2 separate regions of the Homo sapiens genome follow, and region 1 is linked to region 2. Evidence: fine-mapped expression QTL. A gene starts in region 2. The other region holds a variant in brackets. All regions are shown on one strand. Distances are from middle to middle. Region 1 overlaps SAP18 (Sin3A associated protein 18). Region 2 holds the start of SKA3 (spindle and kinetochore associated complex subunit 3).

The links. PIP is the estimated chance that this variant, and not a neighbour inherited with it, causes the effect.
Region 1: its variant is the best candidate, but not a certain one, in a credible set for the expression of SKA3 in fibroblasts (GTEx, PIP 0.70).

What each region holds. Positions count from the first base shown.
Region 1 is chr13:21,148,665-21,154,195 of GRCh38, forward strand. It overlaps SAP18 (Sin3A associated protein 18), which reads left to right. Exons shown (of 4, transcript NM_005870.5): 4 at 1-433. SKA3 (spindle and kinetochore associated complex subunit 3) reads right to left here. Exons shown (of 9, transcript NM_145061.6): 9 at 4,931-5,531. Among named protein-coding and RNA genes, the nearest start is that of SAP18, 11 kb to the left of the region's middle. The variant A/G (reference allele first, on the strand shown) is at 2,697.
Region 2 is chr13:21,173,879-21,178,878 of GRCh38, forward strand. It overlaps SKA3 (spindle and kinetochore associated complex subunit 3), which reads right to left and starts at 2,674. Exons shown (of 9, transcript NM_145061.6): 1 at 2,497-2,674. The coding sequence starts at 2,599. It overlaps MRPL57 (mitochondrial ribosomal protein L57), which reads left to right and starts at 2,780. Exons shown (of 2, transcript NM_024026.5): 1 at 2,780-2,839; 2 at 3,034-5,000. The coding sequence starts at 3,039. The coding sequence ends at 3,347. RefSeq lists enhancers at 747-1,469, 2,192-2,914, 2,930-3,249.

The sequences.
Region 1 (5,531 bases), 25 kb before region 2:
AGGTTGTTTATTCATTCAGATTAGATAGACTGGAGCCATAAAGTTAATTTGCACCTAGCTTTTTGGAGAATAGCCATGATTAACTGCTATTCGTGGTGGGGGTGGGGGGGAACCCTATGATTTACTATGCAGATGAAGAGGGTAGGAACTAAATAAAGGACTTTGTAAGCCAAAGTGGTTGGGCTGCTTTGTCAAATTCCACCCTTTGCTTGGTTCCAACATGGAATTTCTCCTTTAAAGATTTCAATATCCCATCAAAAGTACAGTTAGAGAATACCTAGTGAATTTATTGAATATAATGCTAAGAATCAAAAGACTTGTACTAGTTTACCTCTGGCTTTGGTAAGTGTGGCTTTGAGTAATAACTGAGCTGTTTCCCCGCATATAAAATAGAAATAAATAAGTAGTCATCATGACAGCATCTTGCTCAGTGCTTTAGTGTCTGCCCTGGTTGCCTCATTTGCTCCTAGGTATTTTGGAATTGACGTTTTCCCTTTGGAATATGTGTTACAGTACATGATATTGCCTATAATGTCTTTTTAGTTTTTCACGGTGTACAAAAACTGGGACGGTTATGCCCAGCTGATCATTGACTCAGGTAATGTTTTAGGTATCGGTTGTATGCATGTGAGGGGCAGGTGTGAATGTAGAAAGAAACATTATTAGGCTAGGTTTAAAATTCTCTAAAGTTGAACATAATAAGGAGCTGAACTTGATGCACCTCTTTCTTGTTCAATTAAACACATTTCAGACTTGTTTTTGTGAAATAGAAGGCAACACTCTAAATCAAGTTTGTAACTATGATTTAAGTGTTTACTTGTGCCAAACACAGATGGTTCCCAAGTTATGATAGTTCAACTTTAGATTTTTCAGCTTTGCAGTGGCGCATAAGCGATAAGCCATTCACTACGGTCCTCAGCTTATTATGGGGCTACATCCCAATAAACCAGCTGCCAACTGAACATCTTATAAGTAGAAAGGGCACTTCTGACTTAGGATATTTTCAACTCATGATGAGTTTATCCAGACATGACCCCCTAAGTAAGGAACATTGATACTGTGCTGAGGAACAACTTTACCAGCATTACCTCATGTAACCACAACTGAGATACAGTGACTATAGTTGCTATTTATAGGTGACAATGAGGCCCAGATTGAGGGGCTACTTTAACAGCTCAAAAATGGGGCATTGGACCTAGGTAGCCAAAAATAGAGGATTAGTTGAAACATTTCCAGAAATAATGTTCTTTCATACTCAGTTTCTTATAGTCTGGCATCCACCCACACTACACTGACACACTATTCTTGTAGTGATGTTATTCCCTACAAGTAGCAATTTTTGCCTGGTTATCTAAAGTAGACCTCTTCAGTTTTTAAACTCAAAATGCCTCTCAAAAAAAAAATATGACATGGTCATAGTTTCCACTTTGAATGTGTTAAGAGCAGCCAGATGTCTGCCTGTTCTGGTTTGTCTTCTATTACTTAAATATAGGTTGCTTTTGCAAATAACTAATTTCCTGGAGTCTGCAATGGCACAAGCTTGAAGGAAGTTATGTTTATTCTGTTAGAAAGGATTAATCATGACTAGGCAACTATTCTGTGAAGACAAAATCACGGATTCTCCCCCTTAAGAAATCCTTAGGGGAAATAAGCTAAACATAAAAGTAATTTTAATACTAAAGAGTAGTTGCAATAAGCAAAAAAGTCCTTAGCCTGGGAATGTTAATGCAGACTATTATAGGAAGGTGTAATGATATCCCTACCTCATAAAACTTGGGGAGGAGTCAGTGAAATTAGGGGAGAGCCTGGTGGGCAGTGAATATTCTGTAAAGGTAAGCTATTTTAAAGAGAAAGAAGGTATTTCTAGCCTCTTCAATTTGTGCCTTCAGCTGTTTAGAATTTCCTGCTCTACCCATGGTACCATGTCAACCCAGTTACAACTAACTCATGAGAAAATTTAACCAGGATTTGGCCGGGTGCAGTGGCTCACACATGTAATCTCAGCACTTTGGGAGGCTGAGGTTGGCAGCTGACCTGAGGAGTTCAAAACCAGCCTGGGCAACACGGTGAAACCCCATCTCTACTAAAAATACAAAAATTAGCCAGGCATGGTGGCACATGCCTGTAATCCCAGCTACTCGGGAGGCTGAGGTGGAAGAATTGCTTGAACCTGGGAGGCAGAAGTTGCAGTGAGCAGAGATTGCACCACTGCACTCTAGCCTGGGCGACAGCGAGACACTGTCTCAAAAAAAAAAAAAAAAAAAAAAAAGGAAACGGAATTTGATGAAGTTAGAGCAATTTAAGAATGAAGTGGGCTGGGCGCGGTGGCTCACACCTGTAATCCCAGCACTTGAGGAGGCCAAGGTGGGCAGATCACAAGGTCAGGAGTTCGAGACCAGCCTGACCAACATGGTGAAACCCCATCTCTACTAAAAATACAAAAACTAGCCAGATGTGGTGGCACGCACCTGTAATCCCAGCTACTCAGGAGGCTGAGGCAGGAGAATCGCTTGAACCTGGGAGGCAGAGGTTGCAGTGAGCCAAGATCTCACTATTGCACTCCAGCCTGGGCAACACAGGGAGGCTCAAAAAACAAAACAAAACAGAACAAAACAAAGAATGAAGTGAACCTTCTGAGGGATATTCAAAAATCCTTGAAAATTTTAGATGAGTGCCTATTTTATGTACCAGATGCT[A/G]TGAACCTGGCAATACAAAGATTTGACACAGATGCAGATCCTTCCTCAAAATCTTACAGTCTAGTAAGGAGGAAAAGGTGCAAATATTGATAAAAGGTGGACAGAAAAATGTCACAAGAAAGAAGTGCTACTGAAACTGTGGTAGGATAATGAAAGGTTTTCTACAGATGGCATTTAAGCCTGTTCAACTCCTAAAAGTGGAGTAGGATCTACACTCCAATAAAGTGCACAGCATGAACAAAAGAGGAAACGATGAGCTCACAATCAGTAAAGCACTCACCTACTGACCTTTGGCAGGAGTTCCAGATAAAGAGGAGTATCAGATAATTCTAAAGAATTGTAATAATCTAGGTGAGAATCTGGGTAGTGGTAGAAAGATGTTAAAAGACGGAGCCTCCGTAGGGCTTGGCAACAAACAAGACTTGGGATGGGAAATCGGACATGGAAAGTTAATCATTAAAGCCTCAATTTCCCCATTTGAAAAATTAGGTACCTACCTCAAAGAGTTAATTACACATGTTAATAAATGTATAGCATTTAGAACCATCCCTGGCATCGTAAGATCTCAACTCTTCGATGTAATCACTAATTCACACAATAAACCTTTTAAACTGCTAGGTGCTTGGGTAATGGACAAAGTAAGCAAACAAGGTCCTTGCCCTCACTGAACTTTTGTGGTCCAGTGGGGGAGACAAATATTAAATAAATGTATAACCAAATATTTTATTAAATAGAATTAAATTCTACCAAATACTATGAAGGACGAGAATAAGGTGCTGAGAAAGAACTAAGGGGGAAAGATCTCTTTTAAACCAGGAAAATAGGTAAAGTCTTTGATAAAATGATATTTAATCTGAGACATATTAGCCAGGGCTCAAAGTCTGAAGTAACAGAAAACTCCAGCTGGCTCAAGAGCAAGGAGTTTATGCATCATTTAACAGAAAAGTCCATGGTAGAGCTGGCTGACTTCAGGCCCAGCTGATCCTTGAGCTCCAACACCACCTCAACTCTGTTGCGAGGGCTCCTCCACAGGCCATCCCTCCCTTCACGGCTCCAGCTGTACCTCTATCTCCAGAAGCGTGCTGCTCTTTCCCAGTACTTCCCCAGTCCCGGAATGGGCTTTCATTGACCTGACTTGACCAGTGTGGTCAGAAGTTGTGATGTTGCTTGGTTGAGCCTGGAGCTGGCCTGTAAGTTCTTAAGGGCAGTAGTTAGGGGGCAGACAAAAACATCAAGTGTCCACCAATTAAGGATGAGGGAGTGTTAGCACAGTGGGTGGGAAAAAGTATTCCAGGATGAGAGCAGCCTGTGTGAGGCCCGGGGGCAGGAAGTACGGAGGAGTGGAAGAGGGTGGTGTGGCTGGAGCACAAGGGGCAGGACGGAGAAGCAAGCTGGGGTCAAATCATGTAGGGCCATGTAAGCCAAAATAAGGATCTTGGATTTCATTTTAAGAGGCGTGGGAAGACACACTTGAAAGATCCCAATATTTGAAGCTTGACAAGCTGGAAGCATCAGTTCTAAGAAACAGAAACTAGGATTACAGGAGGGAGGTGGTAAGGGTTAGGGAAATATGACTTGGACAAACTGAGGGGCCACCACTAAACAAATGGTGCTCCCTTGCAGATAATCAGAAATGCTTAACAGTCTTTATTGCCCATCGATGTGGTTTGGCTGTGTCCTCACCCAAATGTCACCTGAATTGTAGCCCCTGTAATTCCCACGTCGTGGGAGGGATGCAGTGGGAGGTAACCGAATCACGGGGGCGGGTCTTTCCTATGCTGTTCTCATAATAGTGAATAAGTCTCACGAGATCTGATGGTTTTATAAAGGGGAGTTTCCCTGCACATACCCTCTTGCCTGCCACCATGTAAGACGTGTCTTTCTTCCCCCTCTGCCTTCTGCCATGATTGTGAGGCCTCCCCAGCCATGTGGAACTGTGAGTCCATTAAACCTCTTTCCTTTATAAATTACCCAGTCTTGGGTATGTCTTTATTAGCAGCGTGAGAACAGACTAATACACTCATCTTTAAAAAACCTCTTCACTACATAACCTCTTCTAGCTACTACACCTTCTCTCGCCTCCCTTCTTTAGCAAAACTCCTCAAGAGCTGTCTAAAGCCACTGTTTTACCTCCTCAGCTGTTTTCTCTTCCATCCACTACAGACTTCTAGTACCAGCACTCCATCAAAATTAATCAATGTTGTCAATAACATCGACTTTGCCAAACCCAACAGTCAGTTCTCAGTCCTCTTTTTATTTGAATTCTCAGCAATATTCACAGAATCATCACTCTCCTTGAAATACTTTCTTCCTACTTCACTGGCCTCAGTCTCCTTTGCTAGATTACTCTGCCCCTTTCCATCCTCTAAAGTTGGGAGAACTCCAGGATTTGGTCCTTGGTACACTTTGAATATATTCCCTCCCTAAGCAGCTCATCCGGTTCTGTGGATTTATATACACACGGTACACAGTGAAAGGCTGGTATACATTTCAGAGTCAATGGCATACATAAGGCTGACTACAGCTTTACTTTGAAAAACAAAACTAAGTATCTTAACATTTTATTTTACATTATATTTAATAAAAATAATACTTACAACTACCCAGTAACTCCTAGAACAAGGACAAACTCAAGTTTTGTTTTGGTGACAGTTTTCTGACAAGATTAATAGAGCACAATGGACAGGTCCCCCATTTGACTTTCAAGGAACAATCATAAAACAGGGTAATCTTTACTGCATCAAATTCCCAAAACTACGCCTTTGAAGTAAGTTGACATAATACTTGTTGTTTCTTCTCAAATTTTTAATGGTTCTCCACAGTATGCTAGGTCCT
Region 2 (5,000 bases):
TGGATTATATGTTATGCATATGCTCAACTTCAGTAAATACTGCTAGTTTTCCAACATGATTTTTACAGTTCACACTCCCACCAGCAGTGCATAAGAAGTGCATTTGTTCCTGCTCATCATCACTGGCCATCAGAGAAATGCAAATCAAAACCACAATGAGATACCATCTCACACCAGTTAGAATGGCAATCATTAAAAAGTCAGGAAAAAACAGGTGCTGGAGAGGATGTGGAGAAATAGGAACACTTTTACACTGTTGGTAGGACTGTAAACTAGTTCAACCATTGTGGAAGACAGTGTGGCAATTCCTCAAGGATCTAGAACTAAAAATACCATTTGACCCAGCCATCCCATCACTGGGTATATACCCAAAGGATTATAAATCATGCTGCTATAAAGACACATGCACACTTATGTTTATTGCCGCACTATTCACAATAGCAAAGACTTGGAACCAACCCAAATGTCCATCAATGATAGACTGGATTAAGAAAATGTGACACATATACACCATGTGCAGCCATAAAAAAGGATAAGTTCATGTCCTATGTAGGGACATGGATGAATCTGGAAACCATCATTCTCAGCAAACTATTGCAAGGACAAAAAACCAAACACCGCATGTTCTCACTCATAGGTGGGAATTGAACAATGAGAACACTTGGACACAGGAAGGGGAACATCACACACTTGGGCCTGTCATGGGGTGAGGGAAGGGGGGAGGGATAGCATTAGGAGATATACCTAATGTAAATGACGAGATAATGGGTACAGCACACCAACATGGTGCATGTATACATATGTAAGAAACCTGCACGTTGTGCACATGTACCCTAGAACTTAAAAGTATAATAATTTTAAAAAAAGAAAAAAAAAGTGCGTACTGCTCCAACAACAACAACAACAACAACAAAAAGCGCATTTGTTCCACATCTTTCCAAACACTTGGTAATTTTCTCTTTTTCGTTTTAGCTATCCTGCTGGGTATGCAACTGTACTACATTGAGATTTAATTTGCATTTCCTTGATGACTAATGAAATTTGCATTTCCTTGATGACTAATGAAATTGATGTCTTTTCACATTCCTGATGACCATCTGAAGATAGTTTTTTCTTTCTTAGATGGAGTCTAAGATCGCTCAGGCTGGAGTGCAGTGGCGCGATCTCGGGTCACTGCAACCTCCGCTTCCAGGGTTCAAGCGATTCTCCCACCTCAGCCTCCGAGTAGCTGGGATTACAGGCGCCCACTACTATGCCCAGCTAATTGTTTTGTATTTTTAGTAGAGACGAGGTTTCACCACGTTGGCCAGGCTGGTCTTGAACTCCTGACCTCGGGCGATCCACCCACCTCGGCCTCCCAAAATGCTGGGATTACAGGCGTGTGCCACCGTGCACGGCCAAATCTTTTTTTCTTTTTGAGACGGACTCTTGCTCTGTCGCCGAGGCTGGAGTGCAGTGGCGGATCTCGGCTCACTGCAAGTTCCGCCTCCCGGGTTCACGCCATTCTCCTACCTCAGCCTCCCGAGTAGCTGGGACTACCGGCGCCCGCCACCACGCCCGGCTAATTTTTTGTATTTTTAGTAGAGACGGGGTTTCACCGTGTTAGCCAGAATGGTCTCGATCTCCTGACCTTGTGATCCGCCCGCCTCAGCCTCCCAAAGTGCTAGGATTACAGGCGTGAGCCACCGCGCCGGGCAGAAATAGACATTTTCAAGTGACTGGAGATCATTCATTATATAATTAAAGTAAAAGTAGTCTGCAGGGTGTAATATTTTAAAGCACATTACAATTATGACATTTATGAAATAATTCCAAAATCTGAACTACTTTTTCAACAATTTAAAAAATCTCTAATAAAAAGGGGAATGGTGAATTTTGCTTTATTTATATACACATATTTTTTTAAACCCCAGCACTGTTGAGTACTAGTGTTTGTGTTGGCAACATGGTTTAGCGGGAAAAACACAGAGGTTTACTGCAACTGTGGACCACGTGAGTGAGAAAAAAGTCACTATATGTGTAAAGTATTGTGTAAAGAACGTTAAATAGCTTGATTCTAAGAGAAACTGTTTAGGTTTACATGGTATTTTACTGACAAGCACACATATTGTATGTGACGAAAGCATATCACGTATAAATTAGTATATGTATTATGAGCTCAATCTGTTAATTTAGGTTCTTATTCTTAAGTGCTGCTGTCTCTGTTTATAACGTAATAGTGCTACTTTCATTATCTCAAGAGAGCCGTGGGGTTGTACATGGGTCTAAAACGGACACGCGACAAGGGTTCCTAGGAATAAACCATAAACAGGCCCGGGAGCTACGCTAACGCCAAACGCCGAGCAGTGAGACGCGCAGCACCCGCCCTGCGCCTCGGTGGCAGCCGTCCACGCCGTCAGTGCCTGGCGGTTCCCGTGGGACATACCGTCCACTCGCCACGCCCCTCCGCCCGCGGCGCACCCCACGCACCGTGCCCTGGCCGCCCGCCTCACGCACCGCTTTCCTCTCCGTCCAGCGCTCGCTGCAGCCGGGCCGTCTCGCAGTCCAGCGTGCTGGCCAGAGACCGCAGCTTCCCGCAGAAGCTCCGGATAGGGTCCATGCTGAGCACAGCGGGGAAGGACTCCAGGCGTACGCAGACCCCACCGCTCAGCTCACAGCCTCCCGCCACTAGTTTGAATCTCGGCGCCGGACGCGTCCTCGGCTCTGCGCAGGCGCAGTCCTCTCTCGCGAGAGCCGAAGTCTCTCGCCGAGGCCCCAGGAGACCCCGCGAGACGGGTGCGCTTACGCCACGGCGTCTGCTGGCGGCCGCGGAGACGCAGAGTCTTGAGCAGCGCGGCAGGTGAGTAGCTGTGCGAATTCGGTTCTCTAGGGAGCTCCTTCTTCGCCTGCTGGCCTTACCTGGGCTCCCCGCTTCTCTGGAGGGGAGGCGGTGCGGGAACTCCCGTAGGCGTGAGCTGGAGCGCGCGCCCGCTGCTCTCTCCAGGTCCGGCCGCGCCAGTTCGCCTCCGCAAAGCCCGTCCCTCTCTTCCGCAGGCACCATGTTCCTGACTGCGCTCCTCTGGCGCGGCCGCATTCCCGGCCGTCAGTGGATCGGGAAGCACCGGCGGCCGCGGTTCGTGTCGTTGCGCGCCAAGCAGAACATGATCCGCCGCCTGGAGATCGAGGCGGAGAACCATTACTGGCTGAGCATGCCCTACATGACCCGGGAGCAGGAGCGCGGCCACGCCGCGGTGCGCAGGAGGGAGGCCTTCGAGGCCATAAAGGCGGCCGCCACTTCCAAGTTCCCCCCGCATAGATTCATTGCGGACCAGCTCGACCATCTCAATGTCACCAAGAAATGGTCCTAATCCTGAGTCGTCACCCTTGGATTTTATGGATCACGGAGCTGACCATCTTTACCTGGTCCTGGAACTGAAAAACTGTAGCTTGTGTGAAAATGAGCCTTTGGACCAGTCTTTATTAAAACAAACAAACATGAGTAGTCTGCATATCGAATATCTAGAGCTCTAAACCCCCAATACTTAAAAGTCTAATTGCTGTCCTGTGGTTTCATTAGTCTGATAGGAAGATAGGGATTTCCTCAGTCACAGATGATATTTTGAAGGAAAGCTGCAATAAAGCCACAATGATTTGAGGTCTTTGCTTAAGTATGAGATACTTGATGGGGGCTTTATCATGCAACATTAGTTTGCTTACCTTAAGAATTGCCCAAAAATGAAAGAAAATATGAGCTTTTCAGTTAAACATACTCCTAAAAACATTTTCCGGGATTTTACTACTAAAATTGGACATTTAAGCGAAGTAAAAGAGGCCGGGTGCGGTGGCTCACGCCTGTAATCCCAACACTTTAGGAGTCCAAGGCGGGCGGATCACTTGAGGTCAGGAGTTCAAGACCAGCTTGGCCAAGGTGATAAAACCCGTCTCTACTAATACAAAAAAAATTAGCTGGGTATGTTGGTGCAGGCTTGCAATCCCAGCTACTTGGGACGCTGAGGTGGGAGGATCGCCTGAACCTCAGAGGCAGAGGTTGCAATGAAGCGGAGGTTGCAGTGAGCCGAGAGCATGCCGCTGCACTCCAGCCTGGGAGACTGCATCTCAAAAAAGAAAAATAAACGAAGTAAAAGATATTTATCAGAGCTGTTACAGGAAGGTGTATTTTTTAGCTATTTTGGCAGGGTGCTGTGGTGCTTGCATGTAGTCCCAGCTATTCAGGAATATTGCTTGAGTCCAGCTTGGGCAACATAGCGAGACCCTATCTAAAATAACAATAATATATGGCCAGGCGGGATGGCTCACGCCTGTAATCCCAGCACTTTGGGAGGCTGAGGCGGGCAGATCACTTGAGGCCAGGAGTTCAAGACCAGCCCAACCAACATGGTGAAACCCTGTCTCCACTGAAAATACATAAAATTAGCCGGGTGCAGTGGTGAGGCCTGTAATCCCAGCTACTCAGGAGGCTGAGGCAGGAGAATCGCTTGCACCCAGGAGGTGGAGGCTGCAGTAAGTCGAGATTGTGTCACTGCACTCTAGCCTGGGCGACAGAAAAAGAAAATTTAGGTGGGGAAAAAAATCAGAATTGCGTCTGTGGGAACAGGAATAAAGGAGAAACCACTATTGACTGGGAAGACACACAAAGAACTTTGTCAAAGTTGTATGGCTGAGGCCCACACGGTGGCTCACTTCTGTAATCCCATCACTTTGGGAGGCTTAGGCAGAAGGATCACCTGAGATCAGGAGTTCCAGACCAGCCTGGCCAACATGGCGAAACCCCATCTCTACTAAAAATACAAAAATTAGCCGGGCGTGGTGGCTTACGCCTGTAATCCCAGCACTTTGGGAGGCCAAGGTGGGCGGATCACAAGGTCAGGAGTTCGAGACCAGCCTGGCCAATATGGTGAAACCCCATCTCTACTAAAAATATAAAAATCAGCAAAAAAAATTTAGCCAGGCTTGGTCATGCATGCCTGTAATCCTAGCTACTGGGAAGGCTGAGGAAGGAG